Linked DNA regions of Homo sapiens. The protein of the gene in region 1 interacts with the protein of each later gene in a pairwise test. Each region holds a gene or a part of one and is shown in the gene's direction. Other genes may lie near its edges.

Region 1 (7,028 bases):
TTTTTTTAACGTGTAACCAAAAATACATTACAACTGAATAACATAGCCTTAAAAAATGAAAGGCAACATGTTTTGGTTCATTGTTTTCAGAAACTAGTTTCTTGCATATAGTAACGACATTAATTATTGAGGTCTCATATTTTTGTTCAGTTTTTTAAATGAATTATTTCATTTTGTAAAAGGTTATAAGAGCAGCCAGGAGGAGCGGAATTGGAAAATCTGTGGGTAAAATCTTCTCGGTTTGGTTTTTTCATTTTACTGGTTCCTAATCCTGATTCATAATGAACAGTTTAGGAGAGAATTGCTGCAATGCAGCATTTAAAACTAAATTTTTAAAAACATGATTTAAGAACATTTTGTATACAATCTTCTATTTAGATCAAAATTGAAAGAATATTGTAGTTTATGATGTTAGAAGCATAATCAGTGCTCATGGAGAAAGTAATTTTTAAGGATTCTGATTTTCTTATAACTTGAGTTTTTAATACTTTGTCTAAACTTTTTTCCTGCTACTCATGTAATCAGTGATTTTAATATGACACCATGGCAGGCAAATCTTTCATAGTGTTTCTGTGTATGCTGTACAGCCTTTAATACAGAATTTATTTTTAATTAAGTGCTTGGTGAAGTGCTATAAATGTAACATCGAATGAAATGAATTATTTTATGAAAGTCTTTAAGCGATATACATATAAACTATTTGCTTTAAATTAGAGAACTTGTTACCGCAAAGCAAGGAGGACAGGGAAACAGTTTATGTCTTTGAAATGAGCTTGCTGGAAACACCAGAAAAAAATCAGTAGAAAAAATTAGGAGCTTGCTAAAAACACCAGGAAGAAAAATCAATAAAAAAATTACATCTATCTATTTATGAATCATGAAAGTAGAATATGGTTATTTGCATCATTAAGTATCTTTACAAATCATTATTCCTTATATGGTACACCGTAAAGGCTGCCAAAAACAAGCTGTGGTAGTTCCGAGAAATTAGAAGAGAATAAAACTAATTAGATAATCTTGCCCAGTTCCTTGCCTAAGCAAAACAACATTCTCGCTTTTCAAGTGAATGATTTGGTGTTTGAACCTTCTTGATTACCTTAAGAGGGAAAAATGAAGGAGAGGAGGGAACCATCATCACATACCTTTACAGTTGTGGAATGTTAGCCCACTATAGTGTTTAACTAAGGAAAATCTAATATAATACACTCCCAAGTGATCTGAAATGATCCGCTATTCAGAATTCCAGAGAAAGACATATCCCTGCCAGAAGGGTGTCCTTCATAACCAAATTTGGTCTTCAGTCTGGTCGGTGCATACTCAAACAGGAATCACTTCCCTTAAGGAACCTAAGGTATGCAGTTGAGATCAACTTATTCCTTTTTGATTTGTCCCCTTAAAGCATCAATCAGACGTGAATGCATCTTGTGACTTGGAGTTACTAGTAATATTGAAATCTGAAACTTGGGGGATCTTTGAAGACACATGGGATTAAAAGCTGCATAATGTACATTTCGAGGCTAAAAACCAGGTTTGAAAAATACAGATGTCCAGATGAGTTTTTCTTTAATTTATTTGAAAAATAGAGATATGCCTTAATTATAGACCATTAGAAATAATTTTTGTGTTTCACAGAGTCTTGATTTTCATTCCAGGAAGCCAGAGTCAGTAATTTATGGCTAGATCTTTAATTAAAACATTTGCCTTACTTAGTATTACAAAATCATCATTTGGTTTTGCAATCAAGATAAGACTGTTTTGTCAACTTAATGCTAAGCACTTAATTTTTATTTAACAATAACTTCTAGAAAGATAATCACTCCAGTCTCAATTATTTTTATGTTTGTGTGTTACCTTTTAATAGTTGCCATTTATATTATTTTAGTAAGGTTGTAGTGGTAGTTTATATATTTGCTTGGAGTTGATAACTAGAGTAAGCAGCTTCATAAAGTACTTCTGAAGGCAGGCTTTACTATTAAAACTGTTTACTATTATGAAGCTGTTTACATTATTTCTGGCATATCTCTTGGTAAATGGTTTAGGGGCACTATTTTCTATTGATGTAAAAATTGAGGCCAGGCATGGTGGATCACGCCTGTAATCCCAGCACTTTGGGAGGCTGAGGCAGGTGGATCACTGGAGGTCAGGAGTTTGAGACCAGCCTGGCCAACATGGCAAAACCTCATCTCTACTAAAAATACAAAAATTAGCCAGGCGTGGTGGCACATGCCTGTGGTCCCAGCTACTCAGGAGTATATTTGTAGATACATATAAAATTCTCTTGACATTACTTGATCACTTATATTAGATCCAAGTGTATAACTTAACTTAGTATTCAGGTTTTTATCTGGCCTTATCCTCTATTACTCTTTGAACCCTACAGTCTGTACTAATTATTTCTAAAATTGTGTTACTCATCTACAATATCTCATATCTTTATAGTCACTAAATGAATGTCTGCTGGATAAATGAGGGAAAATTACTTTCTTTTTGCATAGAAAAAACTATTAGTATGGTTTGTTTTTGGGTGGCGATTGTTATTTTGATTGTACTTAACGTTTGTTTTCAGAATTGTTCACCATGAATATATCTTGTGTCAGCAGTAAAATAATAGATTTCTTTTAGTCACACCTGTAGAATTGAATGTTAATTGTTTCAGTAGCATCTGAGAAAAGGATACGTTCACATATGTCACAACTAAAGAATAATCAGACATCGATGCCTATTTTAAATTGATGCCAAAGTGAGATCAGCTTCTTGTATCTGTCAGTAATGCTTTCAGCTTTAGAGGAAAAACCAACAGCTAATAGTGGCTTAAATAAATAAGAGGATGTTTTTCTCACATAACAAAAAGCCTGGATATAGGCCCTTCACGGTTCCTCACTCTGTTATACTTTGTCGTCCTTAGCTGTTGCTTTTCATCATCCTGTTTGTCGTATTTGCAAGATGGATGCTACAGCTCCAGGCATTCATTCCAGGAAGGAGAAAGGGCAGTTTTAGCTGAGATGGTCCTTTTTATCAGGATAACAACACCCTTCTCAGAGACCTCGAACAGACCGCCACTTCATATTATTCAGAGCTTGGTCATGTGACTACTAGTTGCAGGGAGACTAGGCTAACAGGTATTTGGCTTTCCGGCCTATTTATTGGGAGGTAGCAAGGGAAAGGGGAATTGGGAATGGCTTTAGGAGTGTCTGGTTCATTGTTACTTTTATTTCAGACTTTGAAGTGGGGATGTGGAGGGTAGTAGGTCTTTTTCAGCTAAGACTTAGGAAGTGTTTTCTAATGTTAAGGGCTTTTTCTGGGGTCATGATTGTTTTGTGTTTTAGGGCCCAACTTCCTTCCTTTCCTTTAGGAGAAACTAGAGAGCAGGCAGATACTTGCAAATACCTAGAACCCCTTGCCTCTTATTTTTGGATACCTACTCTTTCTCCTAGATTATTAAAATTGTTCCTGCAAGCATTTAAACTACCTCAGGTCTTACAAGTCTTAAAAAAAAAATAACTTTCTTAGACATACAGCAGATTTTCTGCACCACTTGGTTACCTCCCATTCTTTTTCAATCCATTCCAATCTGACCTTTGTCATTGAGTACTTTTTAGTTTTGTCTTGGCCTCACAACTGTATTTGACATAATCACTCCCTCCTTGAAAATTATTATTTTTTGACTTGCATGGACACCACTGATTTTTTTTTTTTGTTCAATACCCCTGGCTCCTTCTCAGACTATATTAGTGGTTCTCTGAGAGTGGTCCATGGAGTCCCCAGTATCATTTCTGGGGTCCAGAAGATCAAAGCTGTTTTCAGAATAAGATGATGTCTTTTTAACCGTTTTGATATTTGCATTTGATCCTTGCTCCTTGTACTTCAACTTAACAACTTCCATTGGTTTCTTGAATGCTACACTGTTCTTTCTGCCTTAGGATCTTTAAGTATCCTCCCAGTGCCTAGACTACTTTCCTACACGAAACCTTTTTCACCCTTCATGACTAATACTGGGGAGAGTGATGATGAGTTAGTTGCTGCGTATTTTTCAGTTCTTAAATATTCTTTCTCCAAGGGTGTTTCCGTGATATTCTGCTTTCCCGTAGACTTAGGTTCTCCTCCTATATTCTCTCATTGCACTTTCATAGCACTCAATTGCATGAGTCAGAATTCTGGTCACTTAATTTTTTAATGTCTGCCCCACTATTATTTATGCTCCACTAAAGCAGAGAGGGAATCTCTTGGTTATCATTCTAGCATGTCATCTCACATTCCATAAGTATTTGTTAAATGAAAGAATGGTTGAAAAGCTGTTGCAGGACAGGCATGGTGGTTCACACCTGTAATCCGAGCACTTGGGGAGGCTGAGGCAGGAGGATCTCTTGAGCCCAGAAGTTCAAGACAAGCCTGGGCAACATAGCATGGTGGCACATGCCTCTAGTCCCAGCTGCTCAGGAGGCTAAGGTGGGAGGATTTCTTGAGCCCAGGAGGTTGAGGCTGCAGTAAGCAGTGATTGTGCCACTGCACTCCAGCCTGGGTGACAGAACCGAGACCCTGTCTCAAAAATAAATAAATAGGTATTTAAAAAAATAAAAATCACTCAGCAATATTTGGCTGCCATAGTAGTGCTAATTATAATTACTGGGAATTATAATTGTAATTACTGGGCCCTGGGAATGCAGCAAAGACTAAAGACCATTCTTGTTTTCCTGGAGTTTATTCTAATGGATTTGTGCATGGTGATCCCTTCTACTTCAAAGATTCAATGATACCAAATTATGCATACTAGGTATACTATTTTGAGGATTAAATATATTATATGATGGCATCTGTAAAGGTTAGAAATGTTCATTTACCTTTAATTTGTATAGTTGAAACACTTTTTTGTTTTTCAGTCCAAGCCTTATGCATTTGATCGGGTGTTCCAGTCAAGCACATCTCAAGAGCAAGTGTATAATGACTGTGCAAAGAAGATTGTTAAAGGTAAATATATTCAACCTGCTGAGTTGTCTCAGCAATAAGTAAATAAGTTTGTGATCTTTTCTACTTACTCAGCTTCCTTTTTTCATTTTAATGCCCCTTTCTTCTAAGTTAATTGCAGAAGAAAGTTGTTTAAATAATAAAAAGGTCAAACACAATTAGTAAATATTCTATTGCTCAAATTCCATGATCTAATTATATACAGTACCTAATTAAGGTTATTATGAGAACTATGTTACACACTTATTCTTAAGAGATGCATTTCTGTTAGATATTCCCAGGAGAGTTTCCAAGGTGGCAGTTCTAGAAAGAGAACAGTATGAGAATGAAAACAAAAGGGCTAGACACATTTCTAAAAAGTAGTGGAAAATGGCAGTCTATCATTCTTCCATTCCATTGTTATTCCTTCCCCAAAGACTTACCTATCCCTTGAGGAATTTAACAAGGGTTGCCAAGGGTGAGAAAAGTATGTACATTCCAGTTAATACTATAACTTATACAAGAATATTTATAACTTTATATATTCTAAAACCATTGAATTTTAAAGCTGAGAGAGTGCTCATTGTTTATCTGGAGTTACTTCCAGTTACTGTAGAAATCTGTTTAATCAAAGGAATGGCTGTTACTTTGTGATATGATTTATTTCATTTTTTGACAGCTGTAGTTGTTACAAAGTGCTTCTTAGATTGAGGCAAAATCTGTGTTGTGGCATTCACCACATTAAAAGAATTGGGATTCAGTATAAAAATAGGTGGATTAGGATAGCATAGGAGCACAGATGCTCATCCTAGTAACAGGAGATAAAGTGGAGTTATAGAAGGTTTATAGATGAGGTGAGGGAGGGAAAATGTGTATGTACTCATTATATCAATTTCATATTGTCTAATACAGGGAGCAAAGTCATCATGGAGATGAGGAAGGGGGAAGAGGTTCTAGGAAAAGGCATGAAATGGATGGATTCAGGCAGTGTGAGAGTATTGCCAGGCAGTATTAAGGGCCCACTCAAGGTTAGCTGCTGAAAGAGTTGAATTTTTGCCCATTTGGAGTTTTGCTAGGTGAGTACAAAAGAGGGAAGTGGGGGACAAGAGAATTGAGGATATAGTCAAAGGAGTGATTATAATGGTGGACCATGGGATCTAAGGTGGTTAAGTTACAGGAAGAAGGATATGAGGGAGGCTGAAGGGCAGTGAAAAAAGGTGGTAACATTAGTGGGTTGTAGATCTCAGTGGGGTCAAAGATTTGTTGGAATCAGGGTACTGGACGGAGTAATAGAAGGTGAATACAGACAGTCCCTGACTTAGAACAACTTAAAATTGTTCGACTTTACGATGGTGCAAAAGCAATACACATTCAATAGAAATATTCAATAGAAATATTTCTAGTACCTGTACAACCATTCTGTTTTTCACTTTCAGTATAGTATTCAATAAATCATATGAAATATTTAACACTTTATTATAAAATAGGCTTTGTGTTAGATGGTTTTGCTGAACTGTAGATCAGTGTACGTGTTCTGAGCACATTTAAAGTAGGCTAGGCTAAGCCATGGTGTTTGGTAGGTTAGATGTGTTTGATGCATTTTCAGCTTAGGGTATTTTCAACTTACAGAACATTTATCAGGAAGTAACCCCATCGTAAGTTGATTAGTATCTCTACTTGAAATTGAGATTATGGAAGCAATGCAGTTAGTAATGAAAAGGTAAAGGTGTTGTCATGGAGTTGACTTCCGAGGTAGTAAAGAAAGGATAAGGCCAGACATGGTGGGTCACACCTGTAATTCCAGCACTTTGGGAGGCTGAGGTGGGAGGATTGCTTGAGGCCAGGAGTTTGAGACCAGCCTGGGCAACAGCGAGACCCCATCTCTGTTTTTAAAATAAAAATGAAGAAAGAATAAGATCGCAGAAAATTTGGTCAAGGAGCTGAGAGGCCAGGTTATTTTAGTGGGATTATCTGCTACAGACTTTGAAACCACCAGTACTGTTTTATTACAACAGTAATGGTATTGGTGAGAGAGAGTGAACTGGGTACTGACATCTTCATAAAATGAAGGGGAATTAACACTTGTA
Region 2 (7,028 bases), on another chromosome or scaffold:
ATTACAGATGTAAGTAAGCCACCACACCCAGCCTCTTCAGATGATTTTTTTTTTTTTTTTTTTTTTTGAGTTGGAGTTTTGCTCTTGTCACCCAGGCTGGAGTGCAGTGGCACAATCTCGGCTCACTGCAACCTCCGTCTCCCAGGTTCAAGTGATTCTCCTGCCTCAGCCTCCCGAGTAGCTGAGATTATGGGATCCCGCCATCACACCCGGCTAATATTTTGTATTTTTAATAGAGACAGGGTTTCACCATGTTGGCCAGGCTGGTCTCAAACTCCTAACCTCAGGTGATCCACCCGCCTCAGCCTCCCAAAGTGCTGTGATTACAGGTGTGAGACCCGGCCTCTCCAGATGGTTTTTTATGCATATACTATTTGGTTGTAGTCTTTAGTTATAGTTTTATCATTCCTTATTCCAAATTTTTATTGTTTAGTCCCATTTTTCCCAGCAGGCACATGGTCTGGAACAGATGGCACAGATTGATTCCCCTTTATTGTCATCGGAGGGGATAACAGGCTGGAAATAAGATTTTTATTTCACAGGGCTCTTTTCTGAAATAATGTTTTATTTTAATGATATTTTATTTGAATTAACCTCCAATCTACATATGTCCAACAGAGGCACATTTGATATTTATGTGAAATGTGATGGTGTTGGAAGATGTGTTGGTAACTATGATAATCGTGGGAGTTTCGGCGAACTGGCCTTAATGTACAATACACCCAGAGCAGCTACAATCACTGCTACCTCTCCTGGTGCTCTGTGGGGTTTGGTGAGTAAAATACTTATTTGACCTGAATGTTATGATTTGTAGCAATTGCTATGACGGTGTTACAAATTGCCGCATGTAGTATTTTAATTTAAAGATCATCAGTCATCAGGTAATTTATTAAGCAGCCACTGAATGCTGAACTGTAGGGCACTAAGACTTCACTAAGTCAGATCCTGATGTCATTGCCCCCACTCCTCCAGTCCAGTCAGGAGCTTGGGACCTGGTGGCCCAGGAAAGACACTCAGATTCAGAATGCTCCTGTCTTACCCACTCTTAGAAAATAACCAGCCATACAAACACAGCCTTAAGTACTTTTTCTCAGATAGCTTTCTGAGGTAAGTATTATAATCTGATAAAGTTGTGGCTCCCAGAGTGTGGTCCCCTGAACACTGGCAGCTGTATCACTTGGGAACTTTTTAGAAATGCCCATTCTGGGGCCCCACCCACTGATTCTGACCTACTGCATCAGAAATTCGGAGTTTGAGAAACCAGTATAAAAGGATGCTCTTGGTGCTATAAATTGATTGGTAACTACTCTGCATTTAAAAGCAGTTGTGTAGGGAAAAAATGCTTGGTGGCTGTGCTCATGTGCCCCACATCAGAATTACCTGGAGTATTTTTTTAAAATCCTCTTACCTAGCCACGAGGTCAGGAGATCGAGACCACGGTGAAACCCCGTCTCTACTAAAAATACAAAAAATTAGCCGGGCACGGTCGTGGGTGCCTGTAGTCCCAGCTACTCAGGAGGCTGAGGCAGGAGAATGGCATGAACCCGGGAGGCGGAGCTTGCAGTGAAGCTGAGATTGCACCACTGCACTCCAGCCTGGGCGACAGAGCGAGACTCTGTCTCAAAAAAAATCCTCTTACCTAGACCTCACCATGGGCAAATTGATCAGAATCTTCAGCACTGGGACCTGAGCATTAGTACTTTTAAATACATTTCTTAATGTGGTATTCCCGCAAGACTTAAAAGCTGGTTTAAAGATACATTCGGGCAATATTTTCACATATGATAGGATGCAAATTATTAGGCACTACTAAAGCTCCTTCTGGAGGATTGTATTTAAGGTAGTGATTCTCAAACTTTAATATGCTTACAAATCACCTGGGAATCCAGTTAAAATGCAGATTCTGATTCAGTGGTTCTGGGGTGAGGCCCGTGATTTTTGCATTTCTCATCAGCTCCCAGGAGATGGCAGTACTGCCTGATGTCAGGCCAAACCTTAAACAGCATCGATTTAGGGAAATGTTTACAGTATATGTATTTTCTTTTAAAATTGTTGAAAATAGCCCACCCACTAGTTTTGACATGCATTTATTGGGTTATTTCTCTCAAATCCTTTTGTGGAAAGAGAAGAGGTTGAAGTAAATATGAAGTCTGTTAAAAGTCTCATTTCCAAGGACTACTGTATATAGCATTGTGGAAGTCACACATTATTTAGTCACAGTTCAGCATTTGACTCTGAAGTCAATTCAGCTGATAAAAAATATCTCTTGATCAAAGAGACAAGACATTTTACATTTCTTTTAATTGGAACCAGTTATTATATACTTATTTAAAAATGTGATGAGTCACTTTTTTAAGGTTTAGAGGAAAAGCTGAATTGTCTCAGGAAAAGGAAAGAACTGTCAGTGATTTGAATACCCAAAGCCAGCAAAGAAAAAACTTCAAACCAGGACAGTCCTTCACCCACAGAAGTCTTTGTCTGCCTGTAATTAAAGTGGTGGGATAAATCTAGCATCTGCCATGACCTGTTTTATTCAGGAAGGTTTACTTTTCAAATGTAGTCATTCCAATGGGGTTGCCGTTCAGATTCAGATTGTCAGATTGTCACACAGTGAGGAAACTGCCTCCTTGCACATCTTCAGAATAAGATCAACTGTTTTATAGGTTGGCCTCTTTGAATACTGATAGTTTTTAGCCCTTGTAGAAACTTTAATGGGGTATAAAAGACCCAGAATTTCCTAGTGCACGTACTACTTAAGTTCCTAAGATAGGATTAAGCATTTTCAGAGCTTTTTAGTAGTCTATACATGTTATTAAATTTTATAAAAATGGGCAGTTTGTGATAATCCTCCTGACATATAATAGCTTTCTAAAAAAGTTAGAATAATTAACATAATTACTTAGTATTTCAAGCCTACTTTTTAAGGGTGACTTGACTAATTATAATAACTCCTTCTCAGGGAGAGTCGAGTAGAAAATAAATTTTTCTTTTAAGGTCAACAGACTGGAGGTCTGCCTTATAAATACAGGTGTGTAAAGATAAGCAAAAAAAGCCCAAGAGAAAAGTCCATTGCAGAATAGTCTCACTCTGTAAATAATATTTGGTCACTATTAGCCTTAGGGCTAACATGATCTACGTGACTATACTGATGATTTGGAAAGGTGATTTTTGAAATGGCTTCAGGATGAAAGTATTTGAAATTCTGGACTTTATATGTCACAGTGGGTGTGAAGAGGTAGGTTACTAATGGAAAATTCTTTCTGAGAGATATAACTGATTATGATTAGTTTCTAAATCATTAAGCTATTTTGAGTCTTCTCTGTTTTGCAATAACCGCTGTCCATACAATGGTGTTATACCTGATTTCCAAACCTGATTACATATCAGAATCACTTTGGGAGCATTTATGAATTATTGAGCCCTACATGCAGAGATCTTGAGTCATTAAGGTCTGGTGTCTCAGAAATCTTTTTTAATACTATAGCTTATTCTGATGCAGAGCCAGGCTTGGAAATAATTTCAATATTTGTGCTAATTATCTTGTAAAATTTTCTTTTAAAAAAAGTATTAGGAGTAAAACAAGTCCAAATTACAGCCAATACCAAATTGGGAAACAAGATGTTTAATTTCCTAGTGTCTTAGTCCTTTTGGGGTGCTATGACAGACTGTTATAGAATGGGTGGCTTAAGCAGCATACATTTATTTCTCATGGTCTGGACGCTGAGAAGTCCAAGATCAAGGCACCAGAAGATTCGGTGTCTGGTGAGGGCTTGTTTTCCTGTTTAACAGACAGCGTCTTCTACTTGTGTTCTCACATGGTGGAAGGGGCAAGGGAGCTCATTGGGATCTCTTTTATAAGGACATTAATCCCATTCATGAGGGCTCCAGCCTCATGACCTAACCATCTTCCAAAGGCTCCACCACCTAATACTATCCTGGGTGATTAGGATTTCAACAGAGGGATTTTAGAGTGATAGAAACATTCAGTTGCAGTCCATCACACCTAGAGACTTTCATCTATACTGGCATTTTTCTCCATTGCACTAGTTCATTTAAATTCAGCCTTATTATGTTGGCATAAGAAAGAATGAATAAGACCTAGTATTTGGTAGCACAATAGGGTGACCATAGTCAATAATAAAATTGTATATTTTAAAATAAATGTAATTGGATTTTTTGTAACTCAAAGGATAGATGCTTGAGGGGGCAGATACCCCATTCTCTATGATGTGCATATTTCATGTTGCATGCCTGTATCAGAACATCTCATGTACCCCATAAATATACACCTACTATGTACCCACAAAAATTAAAAATAAAAGTAAAAAAAAATTAAAATATTGGCATAGTAATTTATTAAATAATATATCCCAATTTTTACTTTATTAAAATGGTATAATTGTTTATTAATGAATGCCAATCTAACATAATTATTGAGGCTTTTATTAAAGAATTAAAATATTTTATGAGAAATTATTTAAAATAAAATTTTTAGGAAAATAATGTTTTGAGCTGTATCCTTAAAATTTTTACTAGTTCTTCAACCGAGTTCTGTATCTTTGAGGGCATGATAGTATAAACAGGAACATTTTAGACTGTGAACATGGTAAACACTGGAATTAGATCTTACTCAAAAACATAGTTGTAGTTTCTCTGTGCCTTCACATTAAATAAAAATTTTTTTTATGAGTACATATTATGTGTATATATTTACAGGGTACATAAGCTATTTCGATAACAGCATACAATATATAATGATCACATCAGGGTAAATGGAGTAGCCATCACTTTAAGCATTTATAATTTCTTTGGGCATCCCTCCACATTTTTGACAAGAAAATTTTGACATAATGTGGATATGAAAAAGAACGTAGAGTACATAACAGAGTAAAAGAACAGAGTGCTAGTATACATATTTAAAAATGCTGTGACAGCGCCTCCTTGTGGGCAGAACCCAACATATTGGTCAGATTTCTGTTATGTATAAAAAGTCAACAGATGCTTTCTTTAAAAAAAAAAAAAAAAAAAAAAAAGAAAACAGTATTTTATGTGGTTCTGTATTATATTTTGTGCTTGACGAAATAAAAATATGAAATGAGTTGCATTAAAAGTATAATGATGTTAATCTTTTATTTCAGAATCTTCAATCATTGTTTCTTGTAGGGAATAAAATAAAACTATTTGTATAGCTTTACCCCCATAAAATTTACCCTTTAACTGTTCTGCCTGTAGGACAGGGTAACCTTCAGGAGAATAATTGTGAAAAACAATGCCAAAAAGAGAAAAATGTATGAAAGCTTTATTGAGTCACTGCCATTCCTTAAATCTTTGGAGGTAAGTATATGTTTATGCTTTTATTTTATTTTGCTTTAAAAGTTTCTGTTTTGCTAGGAATATTTAGTTCTATAGAAAAATTTCTTTGAATAAAAAAAAATCTATCCATGTTTTTATTTGAAAAGATTAAATGGTAGTGCTAATTTTTATAACTCATTGTTTCTTCTGCTATCTATAATTTCATTTGTTTTGTTATTTGAAAGTAATACATTCCTACCCAGCATCTATAGCAAATTTATATGTGGTCTTTATCTGATAGCAGACTTAATATAATCACATAGATGTAGACAAGAGCCACTAGTTGTAACTTTACAGTGAGGCGTTCTCTAGATATAGAATGTCCTCTCTGGCCTCTTCCTCTCAGTCATCTTTGCTGTTTATTCCTCTTTTCTTCTCCTCTTAAAACTGGCATTCCAGGCCTCTGTCCTTGGCCTCTTCTCTTTTCAGGATACACTTATTCACTTGGTGAACATGTCGAATCCCATGGCCTTAAATACAGATGTCCCTTGACTTACTATGGGGTTACCTTACGAATAAACCCATTGTGAGTTGAAAATATCATAAATAGAAAATGTATTTAATACACCTAAACTATGGAACATTCGAGCTCAGCCTAGCCTACCTGAAACATGCTTAGGACACTCACATCAGCCTACAGCTGGGAACAGTCACCTGGCAGCACAGTGCACTGGAGAGCATGGGTTGTTCACCTCATTGTGGTGAGGCTGGCTGGGCGTTGTGGCTCTCTGCCTGGCGTTGTACTGCATATCGCTAGCCTGGGAGAAGATCGAAACTCAAAATTAGAAGTATAGTTTCTATCGCTTTCAAACAACTGTAAGGTTGAAAAATCATTAATCAAGCCACTGTAAGTCAGGGACCACCTGTACTGTCCATATATTGATGCTTCTTAAAATTGATATCACTGGGCAAGGCCCCTCCCTTGAAGGTCAGACTTACTTATCCAACTGCAAATGTAAGATTTCCTCTCAGATGTCTAATAGACATCTCAAACCTAGTATGTCCCAAATCTACTCCTTTTCTCTTTCCCCGCAGATGGCAACATATCCTTCCAGTGTCTCAGGCCAAAAACCTTCGAGTTAGCACTGACTCATATGAACCACCATCACCTCTTGCCTGGCTAATTGCAGAGTCATCTTTTAAAATCCCTGGTTGTGGCACTGCTCTATTTAAGCTCCTCCTCACATGGCCTCTAAGGCTCTGCACAGACTGTCCCATTCCCCCACCCATTTTCCCCAACCTCATTTCCTACTGCTCCACACTCATCATCTCTCTGTTGACACATCAGCTTCTTGCCACTCCTCAAACACACCTGTCCCACACCCACTTCGGGGTCTTTGTACTTGCCGTCTGTCTGGAATGTCTTCCTACACAGCTGCAGGGCTCCTTCATTTCTCAGCCCAGAGGTCTTCTCAATGAGACCAGCTCTTAGGTTTTTATCTTTGAAGGTAGAGACTTATGAGAGAGAGTAGGTTGTTGTTACCCTAAAAATTCAGCTTCATTTTCCATACTTCATCATTAAATTAAATGCTTTTCTATTTCACTGTCATATTTGAAGTATTTTGAGAGTAATTAAAGACAGGCATATATATGTACCCACAACATCTTATAAAATGGCAAGTGTCAAAACAGCAGTGCTTCTCCTTTTGAATGTCTCTGTTGGATTATCAGCTTAC

What was found. The genes of interacting proteins can lie anywhere in the genome.
Region 2: the proteins of KIF5B (region 1) and PRKAR2B interact in binary tests that used the Homo sapiens proteins (3 or more experiments, as listed by UniProt).

The regions. Positions count from the first base shown.
Region 1 is NC_000010.11:32,046,401-32,053,428, reverse strand, and holds part of KIF5B (kinesin-1 heavy chain), read left to right. Parts: intron 1-2,905; exon of another isoform or gene 2,906-3,119; intron 3,120-4,877; coding exon 4,878-4,965; intron 4,966-7,028. UniProt on the Homo sapiens protein: Microtubule-dependent motor required for normal distribution of mitochondria and lysosomes. Can induce formation of neurite-like membrane protrusions in non-neuronal cells in a ZFYVE27-dependent manner.
Region 2 is NC_000007.14:107,145,690-107,152,717, forward strand, and holds part of PRKAR2B (cAMP-dependent protein kinase type II-beta regulatory subunit), read left to right. Parts: intron 1-618; coding exon 619-772; intron 773-5,232; coding exon 5,233-5,334; intron 5,335-7,028. UniProt on the Homo sapiens protein: Regulatory subunit of the cAMP-dependent protein kinases involved in cAMP signaling in cells. Type II regulatory chains mediate membrane association by binding to anchoring proteins, including the MAP2 kinase.